Regions from separate parts of the Homo sapiens genome. Here region 1 is linked to region 2. A link means that fine-mapping ties the variant in region 2 to the plasma level of a protein whose gene starts in the linked region. Region 2 holds a variant in brackets. A gene starts in the other region. All regions are shown on their forward strands.

Region 1 (5,361 bases), not on the chromosome of region 2:
CACCTGCAAGCTCCGGTCCGGGTGCCGCGCTGACCACAGCCCCGGCATCACGTGACCTCCCGCGGCTCTGTCTGCCCCGCCCCCTCCAGACGCCTGCTCTGCGCTGCGCATTCGCTCTGGCCATAGCGGGCCTCGTGTCGCTGCTGATGCAGCCCGAGGGCGCCCTCGGCGAGGAGCTGCAAGTGCCGCAGCCCAGGGCCGCCAGTTGGCTGAACTTAGGCTCCATCAAGAAGTACTTGGGGAAGCTCTTCAACAGCAGGTGGGCCGGCGGAGGGTGTGAGGAAGGGAGGGAGGGAGGGAGGAAAGCGGGGGGTGGGGGGGGCGCGGGGGGGGGACACGGACGCCACCAGGCACCCCCACGCACATCGCGGCCTGAGCTGGGCTCGGGGAGCGGCCTCATGACTGCAAAGACTTGTTCCCAGCCCGAAGAAATCTAAAAACCACAAGAAAACTGCGAACGCCACGGACACCTCCCCATCAAAAGCCACGAAACCCCCACCATGGACCACCACGAACCCCCAGTGGCTGAACACCTCGGAACCCCGACCACCGACCTCCTCCCGGGGCCCCAGGTAGGACAGCCTGGATGCTGGGCACCGAGCCAGGGGCCTCGGGGCTGGGGGCAGCTTGGGTGCTAGCGAGAGGAAGTTCCTGGGGGCGGGCATGCGGGGAGACACAGCACCCCTGTGGGGGGGGCTTCTTTCTCCAGGCTGGGCCTTGGCCTCCAGACGCCTCTCTGCCCACCAACCCCTTTGTATTGAGAGGGGCCTCGACCCCTCCTCATCCCCTCAGTGAAAACAATAAAGACAAATTTTTGTTGCTTCAGTGACTTCTGTGGGCCTGCGGGCAGGGAGGGACCAGTCCATGGAACGGGAAGTGGGACCCTGTAGTTTCTGCTGTGAGAGAAAAAGACCTCAGCTGTTGGGGGTCCTCCCCTGCCTCCCCTGGCAACCCATCCACCTTCCCCCACTCCACCCACACATGGCCTTGTGGGTCTGGCCCTCCACCCCGTGGTAGAGACACAGATACGGGTCCTGGAGAAGACACTTATTGCCCCTGTAGTCCTGCACAGACAGCACCAGTGTGGGGGGCTCTAACCCAGAGGGAGAGCAGAGGTGAGAGAAGAAACCTCAAAGAAGGGGCTTCAGCTAGACACACCCCAACTCCCACCTGGCTCAAGTTTCTACCAAACAGCCCAGACTCCTCTCCCCATTCACCGCGCATCCCCTTAAGCTGCCAGAGAAAATGCTGGGACTTCAGGCTCCCTCTCCCAGACTCAAACCGTTCTTTTGCGAAACCATCTCTCTATCCAGACATCTTTGGATTTAAGAATCAACCTGAGGCTGGGCACAGTGGCTCACACCTGTAATCCCAGCATTTTGGGAGGCCGAGGTGAGCAGATCGCTGGAGCCCAGGAGTTTAAGACCATGCTGGGCAACATAGCAAGACCCTGTCTCTAAAAAATAAAAAAATTTGCTGGGTGTGGTGGCATGTGCCTGTAGTTCCAGCTGTTTGGGAGGCTGAGGCAGGAGGATCGCTTGAGCCCAGGAGGTCAAAGCTATGGTGAGCTGTGATCATGCCACTGTACTCCAGCCTGGGTGACAGAGCAAGATCCTGTCTCCAAAAACAAACAAAAAATCAATCTGAGCCAAGCAGCTGCATCCTCTAGAAGCTCTTTGCCTTTTAGGACCTGTTTCTACTTCCAGGTCATTTGCACACACCAGATGGAGTAGGACTTGAGGGGAAACACAATTGTGTGTCATTTCCATTTCTGTGCAAGGTGCTGAGCCCAGGAAAGTGGACCCCTCATCCTCCAAACCCATAACCCCATCCCTTGAGACCAAGCATGTGGGGGAGGCAGGAGAAGCCTTTCTAGGAACCAGAAACATTCTAGTTCCCTCACTTCTCCCCTTTACACATGCGCGTACACACGCATGCACACGCGCACTGTCCCCACCTATTCAGGGTGCCTGAGAAGGGCCAGGAAAAGATGGGTTCTCTGGGAATCTGGGAAGTCCTCCCTGGGGCAGGATCCAGGTCCTTGTCCTCCCAGGGCTGGAGTGTACAATCTACAGATTCAACTCATGGTGGCTGGAACTCTCAGCTAATCTAGCCTCCTCCCCTTCCACAGCAGCTTGAATACCTCCTGTGCCCAGGACTTCACTACCTCTCAGGGCAGCCCATTCTCTCCAAATTTCTGGACGGCAGCTCAGGCCCCTGGATGCAGCCATGACTGCCATAGCACCAGAATCGTTCTTCCAGGCTGGGCTGTGCCCCTGCCCCCATGCCAAGGGTGCTTTCGTATAAATTTTGGTGCTTCTGCTGCCTAGGCTGCAGTAAGGCACTGGTGAGGGGTGCACTTGGGGAAGGGTTGTCATCAGGCTGTGTCGGGAAGGTCTATGGGTACTGAACTGGGAAGATTCAAGACTGCCACTTCACAGACTTGCTGAAGGACCATCTGCTCAGAGGAGTCCCTGCCTTCCTCTGGCCACCACTTTTCCCTCTGCGAAGGGGAGAGGATGAGTTGAGTGACTCTGATGACCCCCGCCAACGTTCTGGATGATCCCCTTTTCCTCTGCCCTGCCCTGCCCTCCCCTTTCTCTCCCATGCATTTGGCACTTCCTGCTGCCCCCACCAGGGGTCCACAGAGACACAGGACAGGCTGTGGCTTTGACTTGCTTTATTGAGCCTGTGTGGGAGCAGGGAGCAAGCTTTGGCCAGAGCCAAGGGTGCAGAGGGGAGAGCTGGGCTGGCGCTGCTCATGGAGTCGTAGGAGACAGAAGGTGGCATTATAAGTCCAGCGGGCTGAGCTCCCTGTGAGGACAGGGCAGAACATGGCAGTGTAGGGGGTAGGCCTCGTGCCCTCAGGAGGCCTCAGGCTGGCCCTGGGCTCCTGTTCTCCCTCTTCCACCCCCCACTACACCTTTCCAAGCCCTGATTCAGTCCCACCACCCCCATTTCAGCTCCAGGGAGCTGGACAGACAGGGCAGGGAGTCAAACTCACCTGGGGACAGCAGCATGCGGGGACCCCCACTCCGAGAAGGCCAGCGTGTCCTCTTTGTGTCTTTTCCCATACCTGGGAGGGAAGAGGCAGCAGGGGCAAGCACTGTGCCCAGGTGCCAGCCCACCTGTTTCATATCTGCCTGTAGGCACCATCTTGCCCAGGGCACATTGGTCTAGGCCTGTTGAGCACAGATGCCCTGTTTTCCCAAGAGCAGGCCTGGAAGGGGCTGGGGCTGGGGCTGGGGATAGGGTGTGGCCAGGAATGTGGAGTGGGCCCAGGGTCCCAGGGGCTGGGATCTCTCTCCCCAACTGTGGCACACACCTAGGCCTGGTCAGCATGTTGATGTATCTACGGAGATCAGCTGCATACTGGGCCATCTGCTCTGGTGTGGCATTGTCCCCTGGGTACACTGGCTCCAGTGGGGCTCCCTGGGCACCCAGCAGTGGCTGTAGTAACAGAGCCACGCAGGTGGACAGGAGCAGCAGGGAGAGGCAGAGGCGTGCGGCAGCCATCTGAGGAGCAAGCAGAGGGGAGGTGGAGAGCCCGGGCTGCAGATTTTCCCGTGCCCAGGAAGCAGGGCCCAACTATCCAGCCCCTTAGCCCATCATCCATTTCTCCAAGCCTGGGGACAAGGGGGCAGAGCAAAGGGCCACTCCAAGCTGGCCACTCCACCTCCTAGACACTGCTCTGAAGGCACGGACAGCCTGTCCTGTGAGCAGCCCAGCAAGCCAGGGCCTCGCAAGTTAGAAAAGTATAGCAGAGAAAATGGGGATGTGAGTCCTGGAGACACGGGACTCATGACATCCAGGGCCTCATGGCTCCCAGGAGGCAGCAGCTAGTGGGAATAAGGGCATGCCAGGTCACCCACAGGGTGGGGGACACAGAATGAACTCGGGAAGCCAAGGACAGAAATCCATGGCCTTGTGGGTCTGGCCCTCCACCCTGCGATAGAGACACAGATATCGGTCCTGGAGAAGACGCTACTGTCCATGTCGTCCTGCACAGACCAGCAAAGGCACTCACACAGGGACCCCAGTCACTCACAAGGTCACAGTCACACATTCCAGTTCACAGCCATGCACACGAGTGTGCACACACACGTGCAGTCAGCAGACGGCTCTTCTAGCGTGACAGGTCTGTCCAGATGCAGAAAGCAAGACCCAAGCAGGACCTTAGGCCTCCCAAGGCCCCTGGCCCTGCAAAGCACCACCTCCTCTCCATCCCAGGCCCCAGCCTGGGGGAGGCCCCCAGAGCCCCAGGCAGGCTGAGCCCACTTACCCGGAGTCCAGAGTAAATGGGCACTAGACCAAGCGAGCACCTGCCTCAGGCCGGATGGGCCCCTGCCCTCGGCTGGGCCGCTTTATAGTCCTCAGCCCCCCAGAGTCCCCGCCTCCTGTCAGCCTCTCTCACTCCGAAGCCCTCACCCCTCCTCTCACTGTCTCCTCATACTGGCAACGCCAGTACTGAGGCCAGAGACGGGAGGGGGACAGGGCAGTTCTGTGGGTGCCAGACCAGCAGCATAACAGATAAAACTGGACCACAGTAAAAGTCTCCTGTGGGCCCCCATCACTGACACCCCTTCCCTTTGGGCACCAGAGCAGGCTTGGTTCAAGAAAGATGGGGTTCTGGGACTCGAGAGTGACTGAAAGGTTTTGGTCACAGGCCTTGGAACTAGCTCTCCTGCCTCCCAAAGATCAACCCAAATCATCCAACGGATTCTCTTGGGGCAGAAGATTGAGGCTGCAGCTGGAAGACTGAGGCTACAGCCAGAGCCTCCAGGCTGAAGAATGGAAACTCAGGCCATCCTCTGCAGCTTGCAACTAGAACAAGGTGGGAAGAGGGAAGGGGCCTCAGGTCCTCAGGCAAGGTGGAAAGGAGTGGGGTGCCAGGCTTGGAGAAACCCATTTGGTGGGTGCATAGGATGCAGAATGAGAACTCATGTGCCTGGGTTCAGGGGAAATGTTGAGGGGGGTGCCGGTTTCCAGTATCCATTTCCCTCCCCATCTCAGAGCCCCCATTCCAGGGAAGTGCTAAAAACCAGCTTCATTTGTAAAGCCTCACATTTTCCAAAGTGCTGCCAGCTCAGTCACCTCACTAAATCCCCACAACAACCCATTTTACAGATTCAGGATCTGAAATCTGCTCAGAGATGTCAAATCACTGGCCCCAAACCCCACAGCCAGTCAGACCCCAAAATTTAACTCCAAACCTGGACTGTTTTTTTTCCTAAGTGGGGCCGTCAAAGTATTGTTATAATTTCCCACTTTTTGGCTGAGAAACCTGAGGCTCACAGAGGTAAAGACGCTTGCTCAAGATCTCATAGCTACCGAGGTTCCGAATTCTGGCTTAGATTCTCA
Region 2 (5,374 bases):
CAAGCCTCCTAACTTCATCTGAGGCTCGACCAAACAAAAAGTGATTTGCTCCCACACCAAGGGGCAAATAACATCACTCCTTCCAAAGTGATGTTTCAAGGGTAATGAGACTTGATGTGATTGTTGCCTTCTGCCTACCTTTAGGAACTAACCTTATAAAAAACATGACTCCAGCCAAGCTTTCCCTCTGATAGGCACGTAATCCAACTCTCCTTCATAAAAATGTACTGTACTGCTTTATTACAAGATATTTTTATAAAGATCTACTACTAGACGGTAAAATCTCTAGATATAGAGTGTGAGAAAAGAGAACAGGGAAAGAAAGTGAAATCGAATCTTGTCCATGAACACTTTGGATTTGCTGTGGTGCTGGCAGCCATCTGGCTGTAGGAAGTTGCCACCTGGCAGATGGTAAGTTCCGGCAATTTGCTGGGAATTTCAATTGAAGGGACCTGTTCTTTAGCTGGAAATAGCTCAGGAAAGGGAAGGAAAACAGACTTGCATTGAGTTCTTGCCGCATGCCAGGCACTGTGACAGCACCCTGAGCGTGCTATTTCTTTTGACCTGCACAGTACCCTGTGGAACTGTCATGGTCCCCATTTACATTTGGGAAGCCTCCAGCTTAGGGAAGGCAATGCTCCAGGCATACTAGTAAGTGGCAACGCTGAAACCACATAATAGGATACAGAAATCCATGCTCTTTTTGTTGAAGAGTTTAACTCACAGATGCCAGACACTTAAGAGGCAGTGGCCTGCGACAGTCACCTCAGAACTGAGCTGCAAACACTTCTAAGGCTTCTGCAGAGTCACAATCCCACTTTGGAATCCTGATTCAGACCCTATCCAGGAGCTGGGGGAACTGTGTCCAGGGGTCGCTGGGCATGCGCCCCTCTTTTCTTCCTGTAGGGGGCAGCCACTATGTGTGCATTAAATGCAAACTGACGTCCTATTGGAGGAGAGGTGGACTTGGTTTGAGTTCTTTCAGAGGGGAGGAAAGGTTCCTAAGTGAGGGAGGGAAAACGAAGTAAAAATAAAGCCAGGAAATGTGATGAGGCAGAAAGCATTCATCAACAGAACTACCACAGGGAGGCAAGAGAAAAAGGGGGTGCGGTTGGCCATTGAGAGAGCCAGGATACTGAGAACAGTAAAGCTGCCTGCCCACAGTTCATCCATGGGTACATGGACCATGTGGGCCCGGCAGTGAGTATGATGGTTGATGGGCGTTCACAACAGACTGAAGATAGGAGACTCCCCTGGAATGCTCTGGACAAGCCCTTGGGACTCTCGTGTGGCTCTAAAAGGAGCAGTCCCTCCAAGAATGACAGATTTTGGACATCTGGTATACCCTTGCAAATAGGGCCACTAAGCCAAATTTAATTTGGTTCAGAAAAACAGAATAATGTGATGTTTGATGCAAAAAAAAAACAGCAAATGCTAACAGATAGGCAGAAATAGGTATCCGGACTTGGAAGTAGAAGACATAAAGAGGCATAAAGATGTGGAAGATGTGGGAGCAAATCACTTTTTCTTTGGTTGAGCTTCAGATGAAGTTAGGAGGCTTGAATTTATGAGCCATGCTGTATGCAAAATGTGTAACTTTAAATGCTGGCCCCATAAGAACAGCATAACAGCATAAAGATTTCACCTTAATATAAGGAAGAACCTTCTGATCAGTAACTAGATGATGATAAAATGGGTCATTCAAGAGGTAGCAAGTTCTGCATCCCTGCAGATATTCAAGCAAAAGCTGGGACCCCTTCTTCAGGAATGTTATGGAGCAGATTCCAGCATGGAGTTTGAGGCTAGACTAGATCATTTTTATATTGAACAGGCTGATTTTCTGTCGTTTAATGAATGAAACAGTGACTGCCTATACTAATAGTTTAAAATACCATTTTAAATAACTATTGGCTATATTAAATTAAAGGCACTTGGCAAGTCAAATTCCCAGCTTGTACCTATACCCAGGGTCACTTTATAATTCAGCTCTCAGGGTCCCTGTTCATTATCCCAAGCTATCTGGCAGCAAAACCTTTCAATATCCAAACAAGTGCCTCCTCCCTACAGGAAAGTACC[A/G]TTCCTTTAATATGTCCTTTAAGATCATGGTAGTAGTTGTCCTTGGACAAGTCTCTGTAGGTTACTTTCTTTATTATTTTATCAAGTATGTCAATTACTGCCTAGACTGCAATTGTAAAGAACTATAAATACACTTATGTTATACATTATCAGACAACGAAAGTGAATATCATTGATGAATGTGCTTGTTCACCCTGTTCTACTTTGCAAACCAGTTAGCTTTTGTTTGGCTGACACAGCATTCTTCAAAAAATTGTAGCAGGGTACTTTTAGGGAATGCATGCCTGGCTCCTGCTTGTCACAGCTCTCATCGGGTCCAACGGTATTACACGACTGCTTCACACTTCACAGAGACTATCATTTCCTATGGATCTACCTTTGACAGTCGTCTAGGATGGCTACCAAATGAGAGCCATTTAATCTCAGTGGGTTTATAGAGTGTCAAACACAAACAATTGCCCCTTGTTATTTACCTGCTTTGTGCCCATGCCTCTGGCTGGCAAATGCTAGAAGCAGGTCTTACCCTACATGTGCAGCCCTCTGTCTGCTCCCAACAGGTTTCCAAGCACCTTGTGTAATAAGTACTTGTCAAACTGAATCAAAGACTATGTGTTCCCTCAGCATAGGACTGAGAATCGGAAATACTTACAGATGGATGGACACAAAAATGCAGACTAAATTTAAAATGACTGTGAAAATGAATGTTGCAGGGTGGTCTTGAAGATATAGATGTGTTCAGAAAACAAAAGCTGGTGTAGCCAGGCATGATGGCTGGTGCCTGTAGACCCAGCTATTGACCGGCTGAGGTGGGAGGATCACTTGAGCCCAGGATTTTGAATTCAGCCTGGGCAACATAGTAAGACCCCATCTTTAAAAAAAAAAAAAAAAAAAAAAGCTGATGTTGATAATAAAGCATTATACTAGCAATAGAAACGAGGATGCATGTAGGAACTTCCTTCTTACTACAAAGCTTTAACAGGCCATGGAAGATACAAGAGAAAGGTTTGTGTGCCAGGAGAAAACCTGAGGCCTGCCACCTATAGCTTCCAAGACATATTGGGGACAATTGTGGTCTGGGTAGGGTTTGCTTTCCCAAAAGCTCACAGGTGGTCACAGCAGCACCAGACTTTATGCTTCTCTTGTTGCAACCTCTCTTCTAAATGCCTGGAACAGTGCTGGGCACAAAATCATCCAAGCATAGTTATTGATGGCTTGATTACAATTTCCTAGCAATGAGATGCACACAGTTTACAAAATGTCTGCAAATGTGGTGATTCTTACCTTCCAAGTCTCATGATATCACAAACTGAATAGCAGTTTTGCCTCACATCCTTTTCCAAAGAGGTCGCCAATGTTGATTCATCCCTTTCTTGGTGAAGTTTGCATAAATGAGGGTGGGACTCAGGAGAATGTGTCAAGGAACTGGCCCAAGGTCTCTCTCTGTTTTGGCCCCATTGTGCCTCTCTGATGGCCTTTTGGGAAGACTCTGGCCTGAGACCCAGGCCTTCCCCTGCATCTGGGGAGGCACTGTCCCTCCAGCTGTCCTCTTGATCCAGGATGGGGCTGGTACATGAGTCAGTACATGTTGCCCTGGTGAATTCTTTGTCAGCTGAGAGTTCAGGTGTCTATTAAAAGAAATGCTACTGATTACTGGCTGCGGGATGCACATTGTTTTTTTAAAAATACAAAGCTTTTTTCCCCCATGTGATTATAGATCAGAGTAGTTACAAGATGGGCTTTGAGGTCTGTCTATCACCATAGCATCCCAGCTCCTCCACATGCTCCCGGCTGGACACTGGGCAACACACTCAGGCACCTTGGCTTTGGAAGCTCTCCATAAATGTGAGCCTTATTTTTAAATAAAAAATATTTGCAAAATTTAGACAAAGATAAAAATGGAAGATAAATATGCAAAACAATGACTCTATTCCACTCTCCGATAAGAAATGTTTTCTTTTTAAGTTTTTCATCTTCATCTGTCATCTCAGGGCTTGTCTCCCTGTCTCCACCCCCATCAAGGTGATGTTCTTTCCTGGGTCTCCTCCTCACTTTCCCAGACATGACTTGCTTCGTCTCAACTGCTCACCTCCCTGTCAGCCTTTTAGGTTCTGGTTTTGATGATGTGCTATGTCTTGCTGCCACTGCTTGACCTTCTACAGAAAAACAATCTGTGTTTCAGTAGAAAACTGTTTTTATCTACAGCAGAACCTGCTGGGTTCTCTGATTCTGGCTGTCTCCACTGTCTTTGAGCTATTTTACAACTCTATAAATAAACAGGTCCTTTGAAATCTCTTTTGAGCCAGTTTTAACATCTGCCTGGTTCCCTCACTGAATGAGTTAAATAAAATCTTTAACATGTGTTCATTTTTATATCTGTAGGAATCATGATTTTACCTTTTCCTGAAAATTATCTTCCAGCACTTCCACCCCATGATCTCCATACCTGATGTAATAGAGCCCATGCCTGGGTTCCCACCCCTGCCCTCACCTACAAAAGAAGAACCACCCCAATGAGTGGTCTCCCCACATTTCTGATTGTACATCCCTAACAATGAGAGGGATACACCTCCAAATGTGCACATTTATTTAATTATAAATCATAAACATTTACTACTCTTCTGATAGGCTGGACATTATAAAGGATACACCAAAAATCAAAATTTTAAGAAGACCATATTTTGTCACATTTTCATACTCTTTGGAGAGACCTCCAAAATCTGTTTTCTAACCTATCCTCTCCTTCTAGCTCATTATCCCTGGACATGCTCTCCAGCAATCCTTCCCCACTCCAAGACCTCCAGTCTGTGGAGCTGCTGCTTTTCATCATTACCCCCACTCCCCTTCCCTGTCACACATGTCCTCGGTGTGCCTCTTATTCTGCTTAGATTCCATGGCTCTGCCCCTAGATGCTCACTTACAGACAAGGAAGACCCTGAGCTCCCACCTCCTTGCCCCTCTCTTCCTCCATCACGTGTCACTTGCAGATTCTGAGTTTCCATTTTAATTCCTACTCAAACTGTGTGAACCTCACCCCTGCTTCTGAGCCTCTGACTAGATTAGCTTCAAGTGTGTGACTGCAGATGTCAAATGGGCAGTCAAGACTTCCACATAATCTTTCTCTGTGTCCTTAATCCATTCAGTTTTCTACCTCTGCTCTCTAAATTATTTCTCATCTTGTCTCTCTCTTCAAGTTTCTAACAACTCCACCCTGAACTTGCCTGTGACCTCACAGTGAGAATGGACACGTTCAGATGAGAACTCTTCATCTTCCCACAGCAAATTCCACTGAGCAGCCTGT

Which allele goes with the higher level. Positions count from the first base shown, and alleles are read on the strand shown. Strength reflects both the effect of a copy and how common the allele is.
With allele A in place of G in region 2, the plasma level of the protein whose gene starts at base 4,338 in region 1 is higher (strong association).

Evidence for each region. PIP is the posterior inclusion probability: the model's chance that the variant is causal. The UK Biobank Pharma Proteomics Project read protein levels with antibody pairs (Olink). The fine-mapping took linkage between variants from a reference panel, not from the people measured, so its PIPs are less certain.
Region 1: PPY starts here. The variant in region 2 is fine-mapped to the plasma level of the PPY protein (UK Biobank, PIP above 0.99).

The regions. Positions count from the first base shown.
Region 1 is chr17:43,938,139-43,943,499 of GRCh38, forward strand. PPY (pancreatic polypeptide) reads right to left here and starts at 4,338. Exons shown (of 4, transcript NM_002722.5): 1 at 4,283-4,338; 2 at 3,326-3,516; 3 at 3,005-3,076; 4 at 2,666-2,814. The coding sequence starts at 3,516. The coding sequence ends at 2,790. LINC01976 (long intergenic non-protein coding RNA 1976) reads left to right here and starts at 123. Exons shown (of 2, transcript NR_136406.1): 1 at 123-259; 2 at 423-824. RefSeq lists an enhancer at 1-409.
Region 2 is chr10:48,159,971-48,165,344 of GRCh38, forward strand. FRMPD2 (FERM and PDZ domain containing 2) reads right to left here. Exons shown (of 29, transcript NM_001018071.4): 28 at 3,358-3,701. Among named protein-coding and RNA genes, the nearest start is that of FRMPD2, 110 kb to the right of the region's middle. The variant A/G (reference allele first, on the strand shown) is at 2,077.